Linked DNA regions of Homo sapiens: region 2 is linked to region 1. The links come from fine-mapping of genetic effects on gene expression. Tissue or cell type: whole blood. Region 1 holds a variant in brackets; the other region holds the start of a gene. All regions are shown on one strand. Distances are between the middles of the regions.

Region 1 (7,986 bases):
CGAGGTTCCCTGATTTGTGAGCACAAAACCCAAATAACAGTGGGCAAAGAATGAAACAAGCCAGTGTAAGCAATGTGAATTAGCATAATCGTGCACTCTTCCTCCCGAAAATCCTGCTTCATGCCCCTAGTTCAGGTATAAATACACAGCATCCTGCCCCCGCCTCCACCACCTTTTATTCTCAAAAGTGCTGGCCAAGTTAAATGGTCACCCTAATGTGAGGGGTAGAGATGATCAAACTAGAGAACAGGTGTTCCAGCTAAATGGGACAGCTGATACCCACCTCCAGCTAATTGCTGCTGTGGCTCCGGTGCTGCCAGATATTTCAGTCTTTCAGGAGAAGCCAAAAATCTGGATTTTCAGGTGAAATTTCACAATTTTTAAATGCTGGGTCAATTTTTAAACAATATTCTGCTAGCCAAACAAAACATGGGGGTGCCTAGTTTGCAACCTCTAGCTTAAAATCTGGAAGAAGGGCTTTGGTATCTTTAGCATTTAAAAATTTCTCAACAACTGATTGCAATATACAGAAAACATACCTGTAGTTTCTAGTTCCTGCAGCTGTTTAGATTCCCACATTAAGAGAGCCCATGTTGTCCCATCTCCTTTGCAGGGTCACCAGATAACTCCCAGAACCATTCTAAATCTGCCAGAAGGGAAGGTATGCAGCATCTTATTCAACCTATTTTATGCAGGAGGAATTTTAAGCCTGGAGAAGAAAGATTAACAGTTGGCGCCCCGTGCGCTGGCTCATGCCTATAATCCCAGCACTTTGGGAGGCCAAGGTGGGTGGATCACCTGAGGTCAGGAGTTTGAGACCAGCCTGGCCAATGTGGCAAAATCCTGTCTCTACTAAAAATACAAAAATTAGCCGGGTGTGATGGCACGTGCTTGTAGTCCCAGCTACTCGGGAGGCTGAGGTTGGAAAATCACTTGAACCCAAGAGGTGGAGGTTGCAGTGAGCCAACATCGTGCCACTGCACTCTGGCCTGGGCAACAGAGTGAGACTCTGTCTCAAAAATAACAACAAAAAAGAGAGCCCATGTTGTCCCATCTCCATTGCAGGATCCCCAGATAACTCCTAGAACCATTCTAACTCTGCCGAAAGGGAAGGTATTCAGGATCTTATTTAACCTATTTTATGGATGAGAAATTTTAAGCCTAGAGAAGAAAGACTAGCAGTTGGCTGTGTCTTTCCTCTTGGGAGTGTCTTAGTTCAAGCTGCTATAACAAAATACCATAGACTGGGTGGCTTAAAACAGAAGAAATTTATTTTTCACAGTTCTGGAGGCTGGAAGTCTGAGATGAGGGAGCCAGCATGGTTGAATTCTAGTAGGGGCCCTCTCCCTGGTCGCAGACTGCTCTTGTCTTTCCATGTCTCCACATGGTGGAAAGAAGGGTAGAGAGCACCCTGGAGTCTCTTTTATAAGGGCACTAATCCCACTCATGAGGACTCCACCCTCATGATCTAAATTACCTTCCAAAGGCCCCACCTCTGAATACCATCACATTGGGGTTGGGATTTAAACATAAACTTTTTTTTTTTTTGAGATGGAGTCTCACTCTGTTACCCTGGCTGGAGTGCAGTGGCGCGATCTCAGTTCACTGCAAACTCTGCCTCCTGGGTTCAAGCGATTCTCCTGGCTCAGCCTCCTGAATAGCTGGGATTACAGGTGCCCGCCACCTCGTCCAGCTAATTTTTGTATTCTTAATAGAGACGGGGTTTCACCATGTTGGTCAGGCTGGTCTCAAACTCCTGACCTCGTGATCCACCCGCCTTGAGGCCTCTCAAAGTGCTGGGATTACAGGCTTGAGCCACCACGCCCAGCCTTCAACGTAAACATTTTGTGGGGACACAAACATTCAGTCCATAACAAGGAATTTAAACATGCACACAGTTCTTTCTAGTTAGCATTTTGGCACTCCTAAATCTCACCACCTATTTTCTGCCGGGCCTGTGCCCTTCTAGGGTCAGCATCGATTTCCCAGTATTCACTTTCCAGTGGTTCCTTCTGGCCTCACAGGACCAGCTGGTACAGGACATAAGATAAGAGCTCCTATTGCACCTTCCAGCATTAATAGCAATAGTCCTGGATGACACCGTGAAATCTCAATTACTGTTTGTCAAGTGAACGAATATTCTGAGTAGTTGAGGCATTCTCTTCCTTATTTTGGCCAACTGAGTGCTGGTTAGAAGTGACTTGCACAACACTATGTGGTAGGACCTATGAGAATGTCAGTGGTGGTTTTATGTCACTTTATGCTAGGCAAGCTCCCGGTGACCTGACACATTTTTGGTTTTTCGGATTTTTTTTTTCTGTTACTTGGTACCATTATCATCTTTCAGTGCTGGCCTCAAAGCAATTTCCCCTGCTCTGACAAGAGGAACTCAGAGTGAACTTTCCTTTTGTTCTCATTCCTCACAATCTACTTTGAGATCAGGTCGGAGTTGCCAAGGAGTTCAAACGGCCGATGCTTCCCAGTGTGATTCAGAGGGATCCGTGCCTCCTTTCCGCACACTATTCCTAATGCTCACCTCTCTCCCTGAACTGCTCTCGCCTGCTGTCGGCTCCTTTGTCTGCGAAACACATTTTCTCTTATTATCACCTTGTTCTCTGCCTGCCTTGGATGGTTTCAGCTTGTCTCTTAACATCAAGATGTTGCTATTAACAGTCTTCTCTTTCTTAACAGCTTACAGTCACTTCCTTTTATTCAGTCCTTTTCCTTTTCCCTCCCAAACCACGTAATCATCTCTTTCAGCCTCAAATAAAAGTTGTATAACCATTTCATAACCACTGCTTTAGAGTTGCTATCAAAAAGGCACAAGAAGAAGGACATAAAAGTAAGGGGAGAGAAATCAAAAGGAGAGGAGGTGAGGGATACTCCAATAATTGAGAAACAGGGTGTGTGTGCATCTTCAGAATTCTCCTTTGTTGATTAGCCCTCGAGACTGACCATAGCAAGCTCAGTGGTCTGGTGAAATTTTCCTCTAATTTTTATGGACAGATGGGAAGCTGTTCTCCCCTCCGAGGCTCTGTTTTCCTTCCAAATAGTTAAAATATTTTCTTTGAACTCTCCCAGAATCATTTATTTTTGTCATAAATCCATTCACAGAATCCAATTACATAACGGATATGAGTTTTCCACACCCCCAAAAAGCTAAAATATTTACTCACATTTTCCAGCATTTTCCATTTTCTACTCATTTATTTTTTAGTTCAACAAAACTTAAATAACATTTCCATCACAATTCTATTTATTGTTCCCCCACAATGCTAGCTGAAAATACCAACTGGAAATGTACTCCATTCCCACATAGTAACTGCACTTCAAAAGACAAGAGAGTGACAAAGTATGTCCAATTTTTTCTTTTTTACACTTGAACTGATTTTGGTTAGACTCTCCAGTTTTACATTGTTTTTTGTAGAAAGTTCAGTCATGTTGAAAAAGTCAGTTCCACTTTATATTTTTTCCACCTAAACATTCACCTGTTGCCACAAATCCAACGTGTCTAAAACCAAATTTACTATCTTCCTTCAGTCAGACTAGTTCTGCACTTCAACTTCCTTGCACCTGGCTTCCAGCCAAATCAGCTGGAAACCTTACTCCTTGGATGAATGAAGTAATACATAGAAGGGATGGGTATAAGGCATTTCAAGGAGGATCAGCAAGACTTGGTGACTGACTCAGAGGAGGCAGTTAAAGCCTGACTCAAGGAAGATTACCACCCATCCTGCCCCTCACCTCCTCCTTGTCCTCCTCAACTCCACTCTCTTCCTGCTGTACCAAGGCTAAACTGGCAGCCTGAATTTCTAGGGCCGCCATAATCTGAACCTAACCAATTGCCGTGGACTTTTCCACTTTTCCTAAGTGGTTATATCCTAATCCTACCCATTCTCAAGGTCCAGCCCAAGAACCAAACCTTCCATAAAAACTTGCTTTTCTAGAATTCTAGAGTCTCAAGATTGGAAGAGGAGAGGCTTCTATTCTGATTTCCTTTGTTCATAAAGGCACCAGCAACCAGTGCTCTAGGCATCTGATTTAATCAGTGCTTCAGTTCTGTGAGCCTCATCTTCCAACCAGACTATCAGCTCTGTAAGGGAAAGATAATCCCTCAGCATTTGCCGTGTCTGCACCCTCACCCCTGCCCCACTGAAATTAAGGGAGAATGTGTGATTAATTTTCTTCTCATCATGTGTCTGTAGTATGTTCTCTACTTCTCCATCTTTAACACATCACTTTATCCGTTTCTTTTTTCATTATAATTTGTTCAATTCTGTCTGTGCCTTATCCATTACCTTCTTTTTTATTTTTATTTTTATTTTTTTAAGATGGAGTCTC[G/A]CTCTGTTGCCAGGCTGGAGTGCAGTGGTGTTCCCGGCTCACTGGAACCTCCGCCTCCTAGATTCAAGTGATTCTCCTGCCTCAGCCTCCCGAGTAGCTGGAACCACAGGTGCATGATACCATGCCCGGCTAATTTTTTGTATTTTTTTTTTTTTTAGTAGAGACAGGGTTTCACCGTGTTAACCACGATGCTCTCGATCTCCTGACTTCGTGATCCATCCATTACCTTCTTTATTGCTCATGGCAACCCTCTGAGGTTGACATTATCTTTTCCAATTTACAGAGGAGAAATTGGGCTGGGTGTGATGGCTCATGCCTTAGTTCCAGCACTTTGAGAGGCCAAAGTGGGAGGATCACTTGGGGCCAGGAGTGTGAGACAAGCCTGGGCAACAAAGCAAGACCCCTATCTCTACAAAAAATAAAAAATAACTAGCTGGGCATGGTGGTACACACCTGTAGTCCTGGCTACTCTGGAAACCAAGGAGGGACGATCACTCGAGCCAAGGAGTTTGAGGCTGCAGTGAGCAATGAACCCCAGCCTCAGTAACAGAGCAAGACTGTCTCAAAAAAAAAAAGACACAAAGCAAGGGATCCAGGATTTGAACTCTGAACTCAGCACTATGACTCAAAAGCCCAGGATTTTCCCCATTTTACCCCGGACCTTCCTAAATTGTGTTTTTCTTATGCAGAGCATCTGCTCTCCTTCAAGAACAACGACCAAAAGTAGGTGGAGGCAGCTGGGCGCGGTGGCTCACGCCTGTAATCCCAGCACTTTGGGAGGCCGAAGCGGGCGGATCGCAAGGTCAGGAGATCGAGACCATCCTGGCTAACACGGTGAAACCCCATCTCTACTAAAAATACAAAAACAAAATTAGCCGGGCGTGGTGGCGGGCGCCTGTAGTCCCAGCTACTTTGGAGGCTGAGCCGGGAGAATGGCATGAACCCGGGAGGTGGAGCTTGCAGTGAGCCAAGATTGCGCCACTGCACTCCAGCCTGGGCGACAGAGTGAGACTCCGCCTCAAAAAAAAAAAAAAAAAAAAAATAGGTGGAGGCCTATCCCAAACTGAACTTTTGTGTACTCTGAACCTCTCCTATTTGCCCTCTGGGCTACCCCCATAATTACTCCGTGGTATTAAGGACTGGTAAGTTGGGATAACTTATTAACTATTCCTCTTTCTATTTGTGGTCTCAGAAATCTGAACTACATTTTAATGATAAGAGGGCTGAGGAGTGACCCAGAGATGCTAATTTTGTTTTGGTTAAAATCTCATACATTCGCATATAAATGAAAAGCAAAAGGACGTTTAAATCGTAGAAAGGGAAAAAAATAGCTTAGTCTTTCTCTTTGTCAGAAAGAAGCTTCTTTGGTAACACATAGTGTATGATTTTAGAGCCAGAAGGAATGTTACAAATTATCTATCCAACCCCTTCATTTGACAGAGGCAGAACCCAGGCCCAGACAGTGTGTGACTAACCCAAGGTCCAACAGGAAATGAGAGGCAAGGCTAGAACTAGAGTCTAGGTTTCCTTTTCCACCCCAATTCTTCTCTGAGTCCTTATCTCTTGTTCTGCCTCTATTCAGCCTCGTTGGTAACTTGTACCTCACAAACTAGGTGTGGTACAGACATTATTATTGCTACTCTGACAGTGACTATAGCCTTTCTGGCTGCTGGGATAACAGTGATTCTTGAACACAGAGACCATTCTGTTTGTAGATACATTTTAGGAGACTTCGTTATTATGACTGTGGATATAATGGAATTTGGAAAAAGATGTCTCAAACCCAGCTCAGAAAGATATATAGACCAAGCCCTTTCCAATATATTATGCCATTTATAATTCCCTCCCTGGCCTATGCCCCTCCTATAATTATACTTTAATAATTTTTGTTGGTTGCTGGTTTTTATCAGAAGAGGGGAGGAAGTGAGCATCTTCCAGGGCCTCATCAGGAGATCCTGTCTTTTTCTCACAGGTCCTTGATAGTCTATGGAATTTGTCCCAGCCGATAAGCACATACAACCCAATCTTAATCAGGGACTTCCCAATATATTGGTACCAAGGATTTTGCTCATTTGTGTATGTCTTCCCCATCCTAATTCTCTGATACTTAGAATTCATTTATTCACCTAGTCAAGAAAGATTAATCCACTGCCAACTAAGTGTCAAGTGCTCTCCAGACACTGGATTAAATGACAAAAACCCTACTTGCCTTCTCGCAATTTATAGACCAGGAGCAAACTCCAAAATTACGTATATTCTACATAGAGTTAGAAAGCTTCACTTTACTCATGTAGTCTGTCAAATCAAAGTCCAACCTAATGTAACCACCCAATGGGTTCTCCTTGCCCACTGCCCAGAGAGAGCTGATTTAAGACAGGGGAATTGGAATAGAGAAAGAGTTTAATTCATGCAGAGCCTGCTAAATGGAGACCAGAGTTCTGTTACTCAAATCAGTCTCCCCCAAAATTTGGAGACTCGGGTTTTTAAAGGATAATCTGGCAGGTAGGGGACCAGGGAGTGGGGGTCGCTGATTGGTTGGGTCAGAGATGAAATCATATGGGGTCAAAGTGGATTCGTCTTACTGTCTCCTGCTCCTAGGTGGGATTGCAGTGCTGGTTGAGCCAGATTACTGGTCTGGGTGGCACCAGTTGGTGCATCAGAGCACAAGGTCTGCAAAATATCATGAGCACCAGTCTTACGTTTTATGATAGTGATGTTATCCCTAGGAGCAACTGGGGAGGTTTAGAATCTTGTGGTGTCTAGCCGCATGACTCCTAAACCATAATTTCTAATCTTGTGGCTAGTTAGTCTTACAAAGGCAGCCTGGTCCCCAAGCGAGAAGAGGGTTTGTTTTGGGAAAGGGCTGTTATTATCTTTGTTTTAAAGTTAAACTATAAACTAAGTTTCTCCCAAAGTTAGTTCAGCCTCATGCCCAAGAATGAACAGGGGCAGCTTGGTGGTTAGAAGCAAGATGGAGTCAGTTAGGTCAGATATCTTGCACTGTCATAATTCTCCCACTGTCATAATTTTGCAAAGGCTGTTTCACTAAGAGATGACAGAAGGTGGAAAATCACCACATGACAGTATCTATGGGTAAAGAAAATCAAAATGTTAGTGGTTTACATTTCATTATCTACTCATTATTAAGGAAAGAACTACAGACCAAATTAATGAGTTGAATTTGCCTCTTAGCTGCCTTGATTAGCTCAACATTAATTCTGTTTGAGTGTTCTTTTTCCTTCCCTCCCTCCCTTCCTTCCTCCCTTCCTTCCTCCCTTCCTCTCTCTCTTTCTTTTCTTTTCTTTTCTTTTGAGACAGAGTTTTGCTCTTGTTGCCCAGGCTGGAGTGCAATGGCATGATCTCGGCTCACCGCAACCTCCGCCTCCCAGGTTCAAGCAATTCTCCTGCCTCAGCCTCCCGAGTAGCATGCGCCATCACACCTGGCTAATTTTTTTTTTTTTGTATTTTTAGTAGAGATGGGGTTTCTCCATGTTGGTCAGGCTGGTCTTGAACTCCTGACCTCAGGTGATCTGCCCACCTCGGCCTCCCAGAGTGCTGGGATTACAGGAGTGAGCCACCACGCCTGGCCTCTCTTTCTCTTCTTTTTTGAGACAGGTTTTTGCTCTGTTGCCCACAATGGAGTGC
Region 2 (5,218 bases), 150 kb before region 1:
TAATAGTTCTGGATCCCTGACTAGTCTGTAAGCTCCATGAAGGACAGGACAGTGCCTATTTGGTTCTCCATTGTATATCCAGTGCTTAGAACACTGCCCAACATGTGATAGGCAAGCAACAAATATTTGTTGAATGAATACAAAAAAAGAGTAAGACATAATTCCTGCTCTTGAGTTGCACACAATTTTCTTAGAGAAATGAGATGTCCAGGTGTATTGTTAATGACAAAGATTACAAAATTCAGTGTCAAAGTGTTAAGTAGTAAGGATAATGCTTTGGGAGTTTATAGGCAGAATGACTGGGGAAAACTACATGAAGAGTGTGAATATGAGTAAGTTTTAGGTGAAGAACATGAGGATGAGAGCATGCAAAGGCACTGAAGCAAACTTGAGTTGTTTAGGGGATAGTGAGGAGACCACTGCAACTTCAGAAATCTTTTAGGAAAACGAGTCTGTCACTACGCTTAATTTGATTAATGGACCTATTGGGAGGTAGACTATGTAGCAGTAGGAAGAAGTACAATACTCCAGCAAATGGGAAGAACTCTGTAGCAATCATACTGATAGATACCCCAAAGAATCAGGTATTTTGTATTTAACGTTTTATTTGGGCATCAGTATAAACAAAACTATATTAAGTGTCACTGTAAATTTTGGGCATAAAAAACAGAAATTTTCAAATCTGATTAGAAAAATTAATCTGATTTTGAAAATTAACTTTGTTTACAGCTGAAGAGCTCACTCATTATGCTTCAGAAAACGTTTGATCTACTAAATAAGAATAAGACTGGCATGGCTGTTGAAAGCTAGTGATCTGAAGGACTAAAACCGCAGAGATACTTGGAACTTAAAGAAAATACCTGGAAGAAAACCAGACGAATGAAGGATTTTGGCATAGAACATTTCTATGTTTTTTCATTATTGAGATTTCTAATATGAACATTTCTTTCAGTAACATTTATTTGATAATTAGTTTCTGCTGGCCTTAATAATCCATCCTTTCACTTCTTATAGATATTTTTAAGCTGTGAATTTCTTCAGTGAACCATGAAATATATTATAGAACTGAATTTCTCTGATACAAAAAGAAAATGACACACCCTGAATTGAGTGGTATGGTCTCATTTCTACAGTGAAGTCTGATGCTTTGTTAGCACAGAATCCGTACATGTCCAATAGGTCGCTTTTGTAACTGAGATAAGACCAAGAGGATAAACAGGACAATATAAGAAGAAACCTCTATGTCATTACTGATTTTAAAGGTTCTGTTTTCAGGCATATAACATTTCCAGGTTTGTGTACTGTAAAGATTATAATGTCTTCATTTATTTAGCATGCAAATTTAATAGTCAAACTTTTTGAATCTGCATGTTGATGATGATTATCAGAAAGGGTCTTCTGCCATGCTGTATCTTTATGAAAGAAATAGTTGTTTTTTCTTAAGGTAACTATCAGAGGTGGGATTATCTTGCCTCCTCACTTAGAATACCAACAGTCAAAAGGAAGAACCATCCTCTGAGTTTTAAAAACCAGAAGGTTATGTTAAAATCTGGGCATTTAGTGACAGATCAAATGCATACTTGAACTAAGATTGGCTTCAGCTTAGCAGTCTTTCATGGTGGAAGTGACACATCTGGTTGAAAATAATTTGTGTATTTTCAGTAACCATGTATGGCTTCCTTCTTTATGTATGTGTGTGACTTGTTTTGATTGGTAAGTTATAAGCCAGACATAGATTTTAGCTCTTTAATAAAAACTTCAGGGGCACGTATGTCCCAGTACAAGTGTACTGACTATCAAGTTTTAACTCAGATGCAAGCTTTGGCTCTTTCATAAAAAGTTTTTATGCATATGTGTCTCCATACAAGTGGCTCATTAAAATAAGAACTTTGTAAACTGACTTAAAATCAGATATTTTTTCAAGAGTTAGGGAAAGTTGAAGTGTTTTACTGTTTTGTCTCTTGAGCCCTTTCTCTGGGGAAAAAATACATATCCATCTATCTATCTATATATAAACTGTGTATACATTCTTACTGTTTGAACAACTATTGCCTTTAATTAAATGTTTCATTTTTCTCCAGAGTCCCCAAAGCCACATGGCATTATTATAGTCATTTTTGAGATGCCTGTAGAGAATGAAAGTATTGACTCCGTTAGAGGGAAAATGGGTTTCTCTGGGTGAATTCCAACGAAGCATACCTAGGGGTAACAGTGAACCTACCTGGGTTTGTTTTGTTTTGGTAAGGATTTATGTAGTGTCTGGCTGTAAGCAAGAATGAGTGGATTATAAACTTGAAGATTTCTCTGTTAAAGTCACAAAAATGATCGACAAACAATATTTTTGTGATGTTTATTTAAACGTTGTATTTTATAACATACTTCAAGGAAGAGTATCGAAGTAAGTTGCTTTATAAATTAAGACTAAATTCGTATGGATGCAGAATTCAATTAATAAAATTTGAGCCTGTTACGTAAATTGAATATTAATAAAATTGAAAATTTCTGAGTTGTAGTTTTTCTTCTTTTTCTACTTAAAAACAAAACTAGAAAGCCTGCGGTAGTGAAACGTGTACATGGGCCCACACTCTTTAAAGAAATTTTGTGCAATAATAAAACCCAAAAAGGACTCTCATCTCAGGGCAGTTTCATCTCAAATACACAGACGACTGGAACAAAAGTACTAGCGAGGCCTGCTGGTCCAATGTAAAGGCTGCTAGCCAGAAATCATGAAACGAACAGGTTGCTAAATGAACAGATCCGGCAGCAGTGATGGGCCTTTAAGAGAAGGTCAGCGAAACTGGGGGAGGTACTTGGATAACATTTTGCGGTGGAAAGCTCCCTCACCGCCTGTTGCCGGAGTCTGAATGAAGGCTGGCGGCTCCACGGTCTCACGTAGTTCGGAAATCCTCCGGGTTCCCGGGTTTCCCGTATTTCCGTCTCCGCACCTCGTCCGCACCCCGGGGCTCCGGAGGCTGTCCCACCGGCGCGCCGCCCGCAGGCACCGGCGGCGCCCGGCTGCCGCCTCTGGGGCGGGGCGGGGCGTGGCGTGGCGGGGCAGGCCGGAGGTGCGGGACCCACCTCCTGCCCCTGCCTCCTGGACGCGCTCTCGGGAGCCGATTTTCCCCTTCCCGGCGCCAGGGCCGCGGGCCAGGAGGAGGAGCCTCGCCCGCGGGCACCGCGGGGAGGCGGGCGGCGCACGTGCGGACAGGCGGGGAACCCCGGCGCCGGGGGCGGGGCACCCGGAAGCGCGCGTGGACCTGGCGCACCGAGCCGGGCGGGCGGAGGGGCGGTTGGGACGGCGCGGGGAGGCGGGCGCGCCGCCCGGGCCGCGGCGGGCTGTGGTCACAGGTGGGCGGCTGCGGCGAGGGAGCGGCCGAGCGGAGCCCGGGTCCCGGAGACTCCTGCCGTCACGCCCGGGGCTCCGCGTAGCAGAGATCGGGAGACGCGTCTGTGCCTCCGGGGAAGCCGACCCATCTCCCCTCCGCCTCTTTGGCTGCAGTTGCACCTCCGGCCAGAGGGCAGGTAACTTCCCTTCCAAGGTCATTCTCCTGGCGGGGTGGTGCGCGAGGCCCGCCCACGTCCTCCGGATTGGCGGGGGCGGGAGAGGCGCACCCTGCAAGGGGCCCGACCAGTTGGGCTGGACCGCGACCCCTGAGCACTGCCAGGGAGCCTGGTGTGTCAGCCGCTGCTAGCGGGCATATGCTTCGCCTTTCCCTATAGCCCCGAGGCTGAGTTCCCACCAGCGCCCAGGCTTGGAGCGGAGACCGCTCGGCCCTCCCAGCCTGCACCCGCAGGTGAGCGCAACCGCCCGCGCCCCGGCTGTCCCGGACGCGTGGTCGGCTGTCGCCATAGGAACGGCTGGTGCCCAGACGGCGCCTGCCCAGGCTGGGAAGGGGCGGTGAAGGCAGCTCAGACCTCCAAGAACCCTGGAGCCCCCTGTGTGGCCAGGCGGAGCCACAGAAGCCTGATGAAAACGGGACCCCCTCCCCCTCTCTCTTCTCATTTTTGATTGCTCAGGCGTTGGAGGTTAAGCAGAGAGAGAGAGGCGTGGACCTATTTACGAGATGTAAGTTGTGTTCTTTCCACCTTTACCTTCTGAGGGCTTCTTACGCCTCATGGTGACAGGTGCAAATCATGACACAGAAGGGCAGTATGAAGCCTGTGAAGAAAAAGAAAACCGAAGAACCTGAATTGGAGCCCCTGTGCTGCTGCGAGTACATAGATCGGAATGGGGAAAAGAACCACGTGGCTACTTGTTTGTGTGATTGTCAAGATCTGGATGAAGGGTGTGATCGGTAAGAACAGAGCATTTCTTGACGCTGGCCCCATCACCCTTCTGAGAACTGCCATGTGTACTTTCAACCTAGCCACCCAGAATGCTAGAATTTGCTCTTGATTCTATTTCCAAGCATCTAAAATGAGAGTTGGCTTCTGTGTCAAGTGTGAGGATTTTAGAAAGATGGATTACGCAGTAGTGCACAGCTGTCTGTCTGCTCTGTTTTATAGGATATTATTTTTCGTTTAAAGAGAGATGAGGGAGAGAACAGGCAGTTTAAAGGGATAGTAGGCAAGTTAGTATAAAATAAAATGCAAGCCAGCAGAATCTGTAAGTTTAAAATGAACACAATAGTTCCAGAAAGTTCCTGCCTTCTCAGAGGTCTCAGCATTTAGAGACTGACTACTTGGGACTGGGTGGCACCTGACCACAGAGGGCCTTGTGGGTTGAAATTTCATTTTCCTGCTGTTAGTACTGGTCTTGCCCCTTGTTTCTGGGGAGGAACTCCAGCCAGAAGGCATGTATCTCCCCTGGATTCACAGTTTTCAGTGCGACCAGCAACACTCTTGATTGATCATACTGTATTTGGCTTTTATTTTCCAAGTGATGGAAATTACTATCCAAAAAGAGAATTTTTAACATCACTGAAAAAATTTGGTGTCGGACAGTGAATAATCTGGTTTTAATCCATTTTCTGAGTAATTATATATTTAAAAATCACTGTCAATGGAAGTCATAATGTGGGAAGGATAGGGATGTTGGAAACTTGCTTTTCCCATTAATAATTATTTCTGGTTAAAAAAGTCATTGCAACTGCCAATTTGTTGACTTAGAACTTGATACATTAATACAGCCATGAAAAGCATTCCCTGGGGTCTGCAGTCTAGTACCAGCCTTGACTATTAAAAACCCAGTGAACCCTTTGTCGTTCTTACTTGACAG

The links. PIP is the estimated chance that this variant, and not a neighbour inherited with it, causes the effect.
Region 2: it holds the start of ZDHHC23, and the variant in region 1 is fine-mapped to the expression of ZDHHC23 in whole blood (TOPMed, PIP 0.94).

The regions. Positions count from the first base shown.
Region 1 is chr3:114,090,154-114,098,139 of GRCh38, forward strand. No RefSeq gene overlaps it. Among named protein-coding and RNA genes, the nearest start is that of QTRT2, 37 kb to the left of the region's middle. The variant G/A (reference allele first, on the strand shown) is at 4,342.
Region 2 is chr3:113,944,669-113,949,886 of GRCh38, forward strand. It overlaps ZDHHC23 (zDHHC palmitoyltransferase 23), which reads left to right and starts at 3,345. Exons shown (of 5, transcript NM_001320466.2): 1 at 3,345-3,522; 2 at 4,018-4,295. The coding sequence starts at 4,135. It overlaps GRAMD1C (GRAM domain containing 1C), which reads left to right. Exons shown (of 18, transcript NM_017577.5): 18 at 730-2,506. The coding sequence ends at 810. RefSeq lists an enhancer at 2,763-3,263 and silencers at 2,978-3,477, 3,828-3,927.